Linked DNA regions of Homo sapiens: region 2 is linked to region 1. Evidence: fine-mapped expression QTL. A gene starts in region 1. The other region holds a variant in brackets. All regions are shown on one strand. Distances are between the middles of the regions. Region 1 holds the start of TCP11 (t-complex 11). Region 2 overlaps ANKS1A (ankyrin repeat and sterile alpha motif domain containing 1A).

What was found. PIP is the estimated chance that this variant, and not a neighbour inherited with it, causes the effect. A credible set is the group of variants that fine-mapping cannot tell apart.
Region 2: its variant is the best candidate, but not a certain one, in a credible set for the expression of TCP11 in lung (TOPMed, PIP 0.85).

What each region holds. Positions count from the first base shown.
Region 1 is chr6:35,139,540-35,143,539 of GRCh38, reverse strand. It overlaps TCP11 (t-complex 11), which reads left to right and starts at 2,201. Exons shown (of 10, transcript NM_001370687.1): 1 at 2,201-2,335; 2 at 2,656-2,793. The coding sequence starts at 2,670.
Region 2 is chr6:35,080,506-35,085,016 of GRCh38, reverse strand. It overlaps ANKS1A (ankyrin repeat and sterile alpha motif domain containing 1A), which reads right to left. Exons shown (of 24, transcript NM_015245.3): 17 at 3,859-4,023; 18 at 2,201-2,326; 19 at 1,791-1,862; 20 at 1,514-1,600; 21 at 759-896. Among named protein-coding and RNA genes, the nearest start is that of TCP11, 59 kb to the left of the region's middle. RefSeq lists an enhancer at 3,098-3,769. The variant C/T (reference allele first, on the strand shown) is at 2,288.

The sequences.
Region 1 (4,000 bases):
CTTACTGTGTGACTTTTGGTTACTCTCTGAAACCTCTTTGATCCCCAGCTTGTTCACCTTTCAGACAGTCCAGTATAACACCTGCCTTGCCTACTGAATGAGATTGTGTGCAGAGCATATAGATCTGCGATGTAAAAGCATTCTGTAAATCATTACAGAGAAATCAGTTATTAACTAAGACCCCAAAGGGAAGAAGTGCATATCTCTTACTTGATCTTTCTACTCCCCTCAACCTCTAACTTTTGCTTGGTTGGTTCTGATGACTATTAATGATAAAGATCATGAAATGCTGTACCTGGGCTGACCCTGGGAAAACTAATTTTGTCTTTCTCTGCTACCTCCTTTTCCTCCTGTTCTGGCTTCGGTCCCCTCCCCACTCTCCACCCTCCCCCACCCCCCTCTCACACTACCATGTGCTCCTGGACTGCTATTTCTTCCCACTGACCCTCCCAGACAATTCGAATATTAAGAGAATATTTAAACAGACAATTTAACATATATGAAAGAATTGTTAGAGGAATTTCAGACATCAGTAGGGAGTTTTACAGCAATGCAATTTTTGTGGGGGAAACGAACTGGTGTTATTCTGGAAACTTTCCCAGAAGTAAAAATGCCAAATGGAATTCCTGATTTGCATTTTTAAAGAGAAATCAATAACCCAGCCTAAATATCTCCCTATGTAATAAGGAAGCATCATATTTCATTGAACTCTTTGCTGAAGTCATCATGCAACTTCCTCCCACTTCTGGTGGTTTTAGGGTGAAGGCTGGCCTGCTTCACAGTTGGCATCCCTGAGGGAAATAGCAGGAGAGGGCGAGGAGGAGGAAGGGGTAGGTTTGGTATGGATGAGTCTGAGATGCTCTGGATAAACAGTAACTTGGCTAGGCCACTCCCCTGGTATATGCCTGGGCCTCAAGGTGGAATGGACTTTTTTTAAGCACAAATGCTTTTGGGTGTCTTTATAATTTCCCCCTCCAAACCCAAGAGTTGTGCAAGAAACATCCACACTCCACACTAACAAGGCAAAGGTTGTTTTTGTTTTTTTTTTTTTGAGACGGAGTTTTGCTCTTGTTGCCCAGTCCGGAGTGCAATGGCGTGATCTCGGCTCACCGCAACCTCTGCCTCCCAGGTTTAAGCGGTTCTCCTGCTGCAGCCTCCTGAGTAGCTGGGATTACAGGCATGAGCCACCACGCCCAGCTAATTTTGTATTTTTAGTAGAGACGGGGTTTCTCCATGTTGGTCAGGCTGGTCTCAAACTCCTGACCTCAGGTGATCCACCCGCCTCGGCTTCCCAAAGCCCTGGGATGACAGGCTCGAGCCACCGCGCCTGGCCTTGTTTTGTTTTTTTGAGACAGAGTCTCGCTCTGTTGCCCAGGCTGGAGTGCAGTGGCGCAATCTCAGCTCACTGCAACCACGGCCTCCCGGATTCAAGCAATTCTCTGCCTCAGCCTCCCGAATAGCTGGGAATGCAGGCGCCCGCCACCACGCCCGGCTAATTTTTGTATTTTTAGTAGAGTCGGGGTTTCACCATGTTGGCCAGGCTGGACTCGAACTCCTGACAGGAGATCTGCTGGACTCAGGTGTCAGCCACCGCGCCCGGATTCTTACCATAATACTTTCATCTTTTGTTTTGTTTTGTTACTGTACACTTTTATGGTAAGAAGTCATGACACAGTAATAAAGAGAGACGGGAGCAGGTGAAGAGGAAACGCTTCCTTTCTATTTTCTCAGGCAGGGGCACTCCAGGTCTTCACATCACTGCAAGGGCGACAGAGTAGACTTAGAGTCAAGAAAGGCAAGGGCTAGAGCCCAGGAGGCGGAGGGCGACAACGGGCGGAACCCCAGTGGGCAGAGCCTGGCCCCAGCCCTGGCGGCTCCTCCGCTTCTCCCACATGTGAGGAAAGAGCGCGGCCCCTGCGCCCCTGCGGCACACGCTGTGAAACAACCCTCCTGGGTGTGGCTCGGCTTCTCGGCTGTCCAAACAGCCTGAAGAAAAGCCCCATGCATGCTCTGGCCTCGTCTCAGCAGTTCCAGGCCATCCTTCTCGAGGGGCGGGAGCTGACCGGCATGAACCGGCCGCAGCGAGCCGCTCGAGGCCTGGTTGGCTTCGAGCTCAGGAGGGACGCACGAGCCTGCCGCTTCCGGCTCTGGCGGGGGGGGCACGTGCCCCGTCCCGTTGCCCCGGCGACCGCGGCGGTTTGTTCTCAGGCCCCGGCCTTTCTCACCGTGCGACGCCCCAACCCGCCGCTCCGCCGCGGTGGTACGCTCCAGGCCGCCAGGCCGCGAGGCCCACCGAGCGGACGCCAGTGGATGACCCGCGGCGGGGGAGGAGGAGGTGACGGCCTGGGAGCCGGAGGCGGGCCTGGGCCGGCGTTTCGGGCGAGGGGGGCACCTCGCCGCGAAGGAAGGGGCCTTCCCACGCTTCCCGCCCTGCGCCGGGCTTCTGTGGCTTTAGTTTCCTCGTTGCCGCCCAGCGCTCCACTTCTGTCCCACTCTCGACTTCCGCTCCTCCACGCTCCTTTGCCCCTTTCTGCCCCTCAGCACCCCCAAGACCCTGAGGCCGCTACCCCCCTTCCCGCCGCCCCCAGGGACCCCCTTGGCAATTGGGGAGGCCCCTTCCCCGACGCCAACAACACGCCTTTCTCCCTCACCCAGATACCATCAGCAAAATGCCAGACGTCAAGGAGAGTGTGCCCCCGAAATATCCTGGCGACTCAGAGGGCAGGTCCTGTAAGCCCGAAACCTCAGGACCCCCCCAGGAAGACAAGAGCGGCTCCGAGGACCCCCCTCCCTGTAGGTCCAGCTCGGCAGTCCCTGTGGCCCCCTAGGGGGTGCTTAGTGTGGGGGGTCCGCAGGCCCCCCCATCCCCCAAGTTTTCTCTCTTCACTATCCCTCTCTCGTTTGTCTTTCTCCGTTTCTCCCCCACCCGCCTTTACTTACAGGCCCGAGGGCAGAGGTCTTCAAAGAGTTTTTGGTTCTAGAGAAAGAAGTGACCCAAGCGTGATTACTTGAATCTGACAAGATTTGAGACTGAGTCGGTTCAAAGCCCTCCTTTGTATTGTATTTTGAATATGTAGGGGGGATTGGCAGATAGATCTGGGATTGATTTTAAAGAACCCAAATGATCCCAGACGGGAATTGGGTTTTCTCAGCGCTTTGCTAACTCAAGAAATAGTAGTGTCCTGGGCCCAGTCTCTAGCTCGGTTCTGTAGTGGGTGTTCTTTTGTGTTCTTGTTGGGGCACAAGGTCTTCTCCGCGCTTCGTGGTAGGTCCAGTCTCACTGGGACTCATGCTGTATTTCTCTTAATCTCCAGAGAACGTAACTAGTCATCAAACTGAGGAGCTGTCCGTGTGCAACAACTCAAGATAAAATTCTTGACTATTGAAATGCGAAAAATTAGATTGAGGCTTTGCGGCTGAATTAGATTGGTTTTTCTTGTGGCCACATGAGGTCGCTGCTGGTTAACTGAATGGCACCAAAAGGCATATTGGGGTCATTTCCAACAGCTATGAACCTGAGGTAGGATGAAAAATCCGTTTTTTTGTACACACAATTTAAGTTTTTGAGGTGTCTATTTAAATGAGTCCATATATAAAACAACTCTCAGTAAAATGAATAATCAAATTCCTTTTTAAAAAAATTTGAAATTTTGTGTATTAGGTTGACTTGGTTGTTATATTACTTGAAAATGTCTTTGTCCTTGGGATCTGGATTTTTAAAATCTATTTCGGTTAAATTTTATCTCTAATTTCTCTTTGAGCTCTCCTCATTCCTGAATTTTAGAGCTGTTTTGGAATTGCTTAGTGCTGTGTAACTTTTGAGCAACAGAAGTCTTATCAAGGCAGGCTATGAACTTTGATTTGTTGTAGTTGGAAAGTGTTTCTGTGTATATTTCCCTCCGTCCCTCAATAAGCTGCTGTAGTTCAATCCCCTTCTGAAGATTTTCTCTTAGCTCTCATTTAGCATTAGTGAATTAGCAGTGAGTCTGTTTACATATTT
Region 2 (4,511 bases), 59 kb after region 1:
CAGAGATTCTGGAAGCAGCTGCTATCCCTGAGGGCGGCAGAGACCTGGACCCCTCTGACTTCCTCCCGGGGTGAGGAAGCAGCCTGGGGCCACTCTCATGCTTTGTTGCAGGTTAGAGGGAACCCCCGCCTGTGGGCTGTCAGTTCTGGTCTGCTCCCTGTGGGCAGCTGTGTGAGAATGAACTCTCCTCGGCCCAGTGGCATCCAGAGCCGAGCCTCAGCAGGAATTTGAGGGAAGAAAATCTGCCAAAGAGGGCACCACTGCCCCTAAGAGGGAAGTAGAGGGCATTTCTGGGAGGCGGCCCAGCCAGAGGTTGGAGACCTAGGGCAGGGAGCCGGGGGAAACAAAGGCCTTGCCTGACCTAAGAAAACACTCGCCAAAAAGCTGGAAAGTCAGGGGCGGTGGCTCACGCCTATTATCCAGTTACGTGGGAGGCTGAGGTGGGTAACTTGCCTGAACCCAGGAGTGCAAGGCAAGCCTGGGCAACATAGTGAGACTCCATCTCTTAAAAAAAAAAAAAAAAAGCTGGAACCTCCTGTCCCTAGTGCCCTGGGCCAGTCCCTGTTCCCTCTGCGCGTCAGTCTCATCACTGTGAAAGGGGACCGGCCTGAGTGCTGCTGGGCTCCATTCATGAACCAAACATTTGCCAGGCACTGGCCAGGGGCCAGGACAGCGCCGCATCTGTGCCCTGCAATGGGGCTGGACGCCTCAGGGCTGCAACCCAAGCCTGCCCCACCCGGCCCCAGGACCCCACCCACCACATCCACGGTGCTGAACACATGGCAATAGTGGTGGCTGGTCTGCAGGTCCTTGGTGATGTAGGCAAAGGTACAGAGGTCCTCCGGGTCCTGGGCCGCACAGGAAATGTTCCGGATCTCGTGCTCTGCAATGACGTTCTGCTGGGGAAAGCCGTGTTCTGGAATTCTCAGGCTCAGGCATGCCTCTGGCACCCCCTGCCCCAGCCTGTTACCATTGTCACTGTTCTCTGTCCCAGCCTAGAGCATCAAGCAAACCCCCCTTCATCTTCTCATTTTGTTTATTGGTGGGGGTGGGGGTCCCCGATTTTGGTTTGGGGTCTCCACCCCTTACCACAACAACTAAGGCAGTAAAATGTTCACACCCAACCACAAGCTCTCCCCAGCCCCTCCCACCTTCCAGGGTGGGGGCAAAGTGGGAAGGGTGTCAGGAAGGTGGGATCCCACACGGTGGCACACAGAGAAAGTCCTTTGCTCACGGAGGGAATCACACCTGTGAGCAGGTGTGCGGCCAGTGGAGCCCAGGTGGCGAGGCTAACAGCAGTGATCACTAGGGCGGGGACGGGGCTGACAGCAGGCACCCAGGCCAGCAGATGAGAGACACGCCTCTTAGCAAAGTGGGAAGTAATAAGAGGACTGGGGACCCTCTAGGGAGATAAGAGATGAGACAGGGCAGCCGGGTTGCTTGCCCTGGAGCCCTGTGGGTCTGACGGGGATGTGGGTCCCACTCCCACCAAGAGTCCCTGTAAGCAGCACACCTTGTTGGAGGCATCGATGAACTTGACACCTTTGTATGTGATGGACAGGATGATGGTGGGGATCTTCTTCATGTGCTCCGTAGATTTCTACAGGAAACAAGGGGTGGCCCTGTCAGTGCCCCTTCTCAGGGCTAAGCCTCCTGGGCTTCCACAGGTCCCAGCTTCCTTCCCATCCTTACATAGTGCAGCAGGGCCCAGGCAACTGCAGCTACTGCCCCCATTGCTGCCTTCTGCTGGCCAGTCCCACAGCGCCCTCCAGCCCACACAGGCACCCTACCCGCATCTTGGCACAGGCGTCTTGCGTGGATTCTGTCCCTCGCAGATCTTTGATCAGCATGGAGCCCAGATACTGTGGGGGCGAGCAGTGGCCAGGCTTAGGAAATCCTGCGTTTCCATGCAGGGGTGACCCAACCAATTTGGGACTGTCCCACAATCAAGTAGTTACCCCTCTCAATAACAACACCCCCTCTCCTGCCCCAGCTGGAGAGACCCTCCATTCAACTCCCTAGCTAAAGGATCCAGAGGCCTCCACCCCTTCGCCTTAGCTGTCAAGAGTGGCTGAGAGTGGAGAACAGCTCAAAAGCCCTGGGCCTGGCTTTGTGGAGTCCCTGCTGGGACTTGGCCGCAGGTGCCTGGCCGAGAAGGAGCAGGGAGGCCGGCCCTGCTGGGAGGGTGGGAGCAACTCACATTGGCTTCATAACCACAGGACTCGAAGATGAGTTTCTCTGGCTGGTGTTGCCAACTCTGCACTGGGGCGTAGGGGGCTGCCAGGCT[C/T]GGGGGCCGCAGGGTCAGCTTGGCCTCACGGTGCTCCTCCTGCGAAACACACGCAATTGGACACCTGCTCCTTGCTCCAGAGGAGCACATGGGCTTGCTGCCTGGCTCCAGCACACTCAAGGGTGAAGATGCCAGTGACCTTAGCAAGTTCAAGGGTCGAGTGGAGATGGCAGGGGGCAGACCAGCAATTCAAACACACTGCGGGAGAGGGGAGGTGCTAGCCACAGCAGAGGCACAGCAGGGACCCAAACCGCCTGAGAGCAGGGCTTGGGAAGGACAGTCTCTGTGGTGTCCGAGATGAGTCTCAAAGGAGATGGGAAATGACCAGAGAGGAGATGGCAGAGTCTGTGTGGGGGGCACAGGCTGCCAGGCTGTTCTGCACAAAGACCAAAGGAGAGAACAGCGCCCACGAGACCCTGGGACGCCTTGGGACCCAGCCCAGGGCCTGGGAGGGATCTTCACAGCGGGGAAGCCAGTGAAGCACCCGCCCGTGCCTAGGAATGCATTCCAAATGGATCCTTCTGGCAGCAGCTAGGGGGTGGGGGAGGCCACTGCGGTCCAGGTGAGAGATCATGGGTCCCTGTCCAGGGCACTGGTGGAAGGAATGGAGAGGAAGGAAAAGATTCAGGAAACACGGAGGCCCTCCCTTCCCAGCAGTGCGCAGAGCCTCTCAACAGCAACCGGAATTGCTGGACAATGTGTTTAAAAATCCTTTAAAACTCATGGCTGTGCTTGTAGAAAGGGAAAGGAAGTCCCCAGAGCCAGAAGTGAGAAGTGAGAGTCAGAGAAACAAGCAGGGGTGAAGCTGAAGTTCACCCGGAGGGGCCTGAGGGACACCTGCTAATCCTGTGTCTGACAGGCCAAGAAGAGGACAAAGGACAAAGCCAAGGTCCGTACAAGGAGGGAGGCAGGACAGGCAGGTCCTGAGTAAATCCAGGACCCCTGGAAATGATGCCCTGAGAAGGTGAGCCAGGAGTGTGAGACGGGCCCACCTCCGCCAGGGCTGGAGCGGGCACCGGGAGCGGAGGAGGCGTCTCCAGCGGTGCCCCCCACGGGGCTGCAGGCAGAGAACAGGAAGAACAGAATCTGGTCTGGCTGTGGTTTTGCTGAGCAGGAGGAAGAGAATGCTGCCGAGGTGAAGCTGCAGGGAAAGCAGTTCTGGGGAACAACGTGGGTAAGCAGAGAAGGAAGGGGCCAAGAAGGAGCTCAGAGGCCAGGAGAGCACAGAGGGCTCTGGGGCCAGCAGGGGAGGCAGTGCAGGACGCAAGAGGCCACAGAGAAAGAGCGGACAGGGGATCTGAACCCCTGAGGGAGGGAAGTACAGGACACAGGAGTGGCCCCAGCAGCTGACAGCTAAAGTGAGTTGTGCGGCCCGAGCTCGGCACCATGGGTGCTGGGTGGGCCTTACGCAAGGCGGCTGGGTGTGGGCGAGCAGAGCAGGCTAGTGCCTCCTGACTCTGGTGCCAGCCCAACTGTGCTCAAGTATGGGGCAGCAGGTGGTTCTGGGAGGCCCTGTCCCACCCAGAGGAATGAGGTAGAGCCTGGCTGCACCTCCACTCCCCCTGCCCCACCTGGATCCTGAAGCGCTCCGCTCGGGAGGGTGCCGCAGGGTCATGGAGACTGTCATGGCGCCTCCTGCCTGTGTCCCCTGGAGGCAGCAGCAGATCTGCCGACCGCCCAGTGCAGGAATCATTCTGACTCAGTGGGGATGACGTCTGGGAGAGCAAATCTTGGCACTGTGGAGGGAAAAATCCAGGTGGAACTTGCAACCCTCGGCCCAGTGCCCGACTACAGGTATCAGCCAGCCCCACTGGTTAGGACGGCACAGGCAGCGGCACCGGGAGAAGCAGCAGGGAGCGAAGGGGCCAACACCACAGGGGTGTCAGACAGGTGGCACCACGCAGCCACCGTCCACTAGTGTCCCCCGAGAGGGCGGGGAAGCCACTTTTGCATTTATAAAAGATTAAATCTTCTGTCCTGATCCATTGCAGGCCTCTGCACATGACCAAACAAAGCACCCCCTTGAGAAAAAATGGAGCCCTGTCAGTCAGGGCCCTAAAGCCACCGTCCCCAACAGAATACAATCCTGGCTTCTCAGTGTCTATATCTGAATGTCAGTTGTGTGTTTGGTTCCCAGAGCAAGGCTGGGCCTCCACTTTCTCATCTGTAAAAGGAGGATGAACAGGACCCACTTCACGAAGCCCCTGAGGGTTCAATGGGGTGA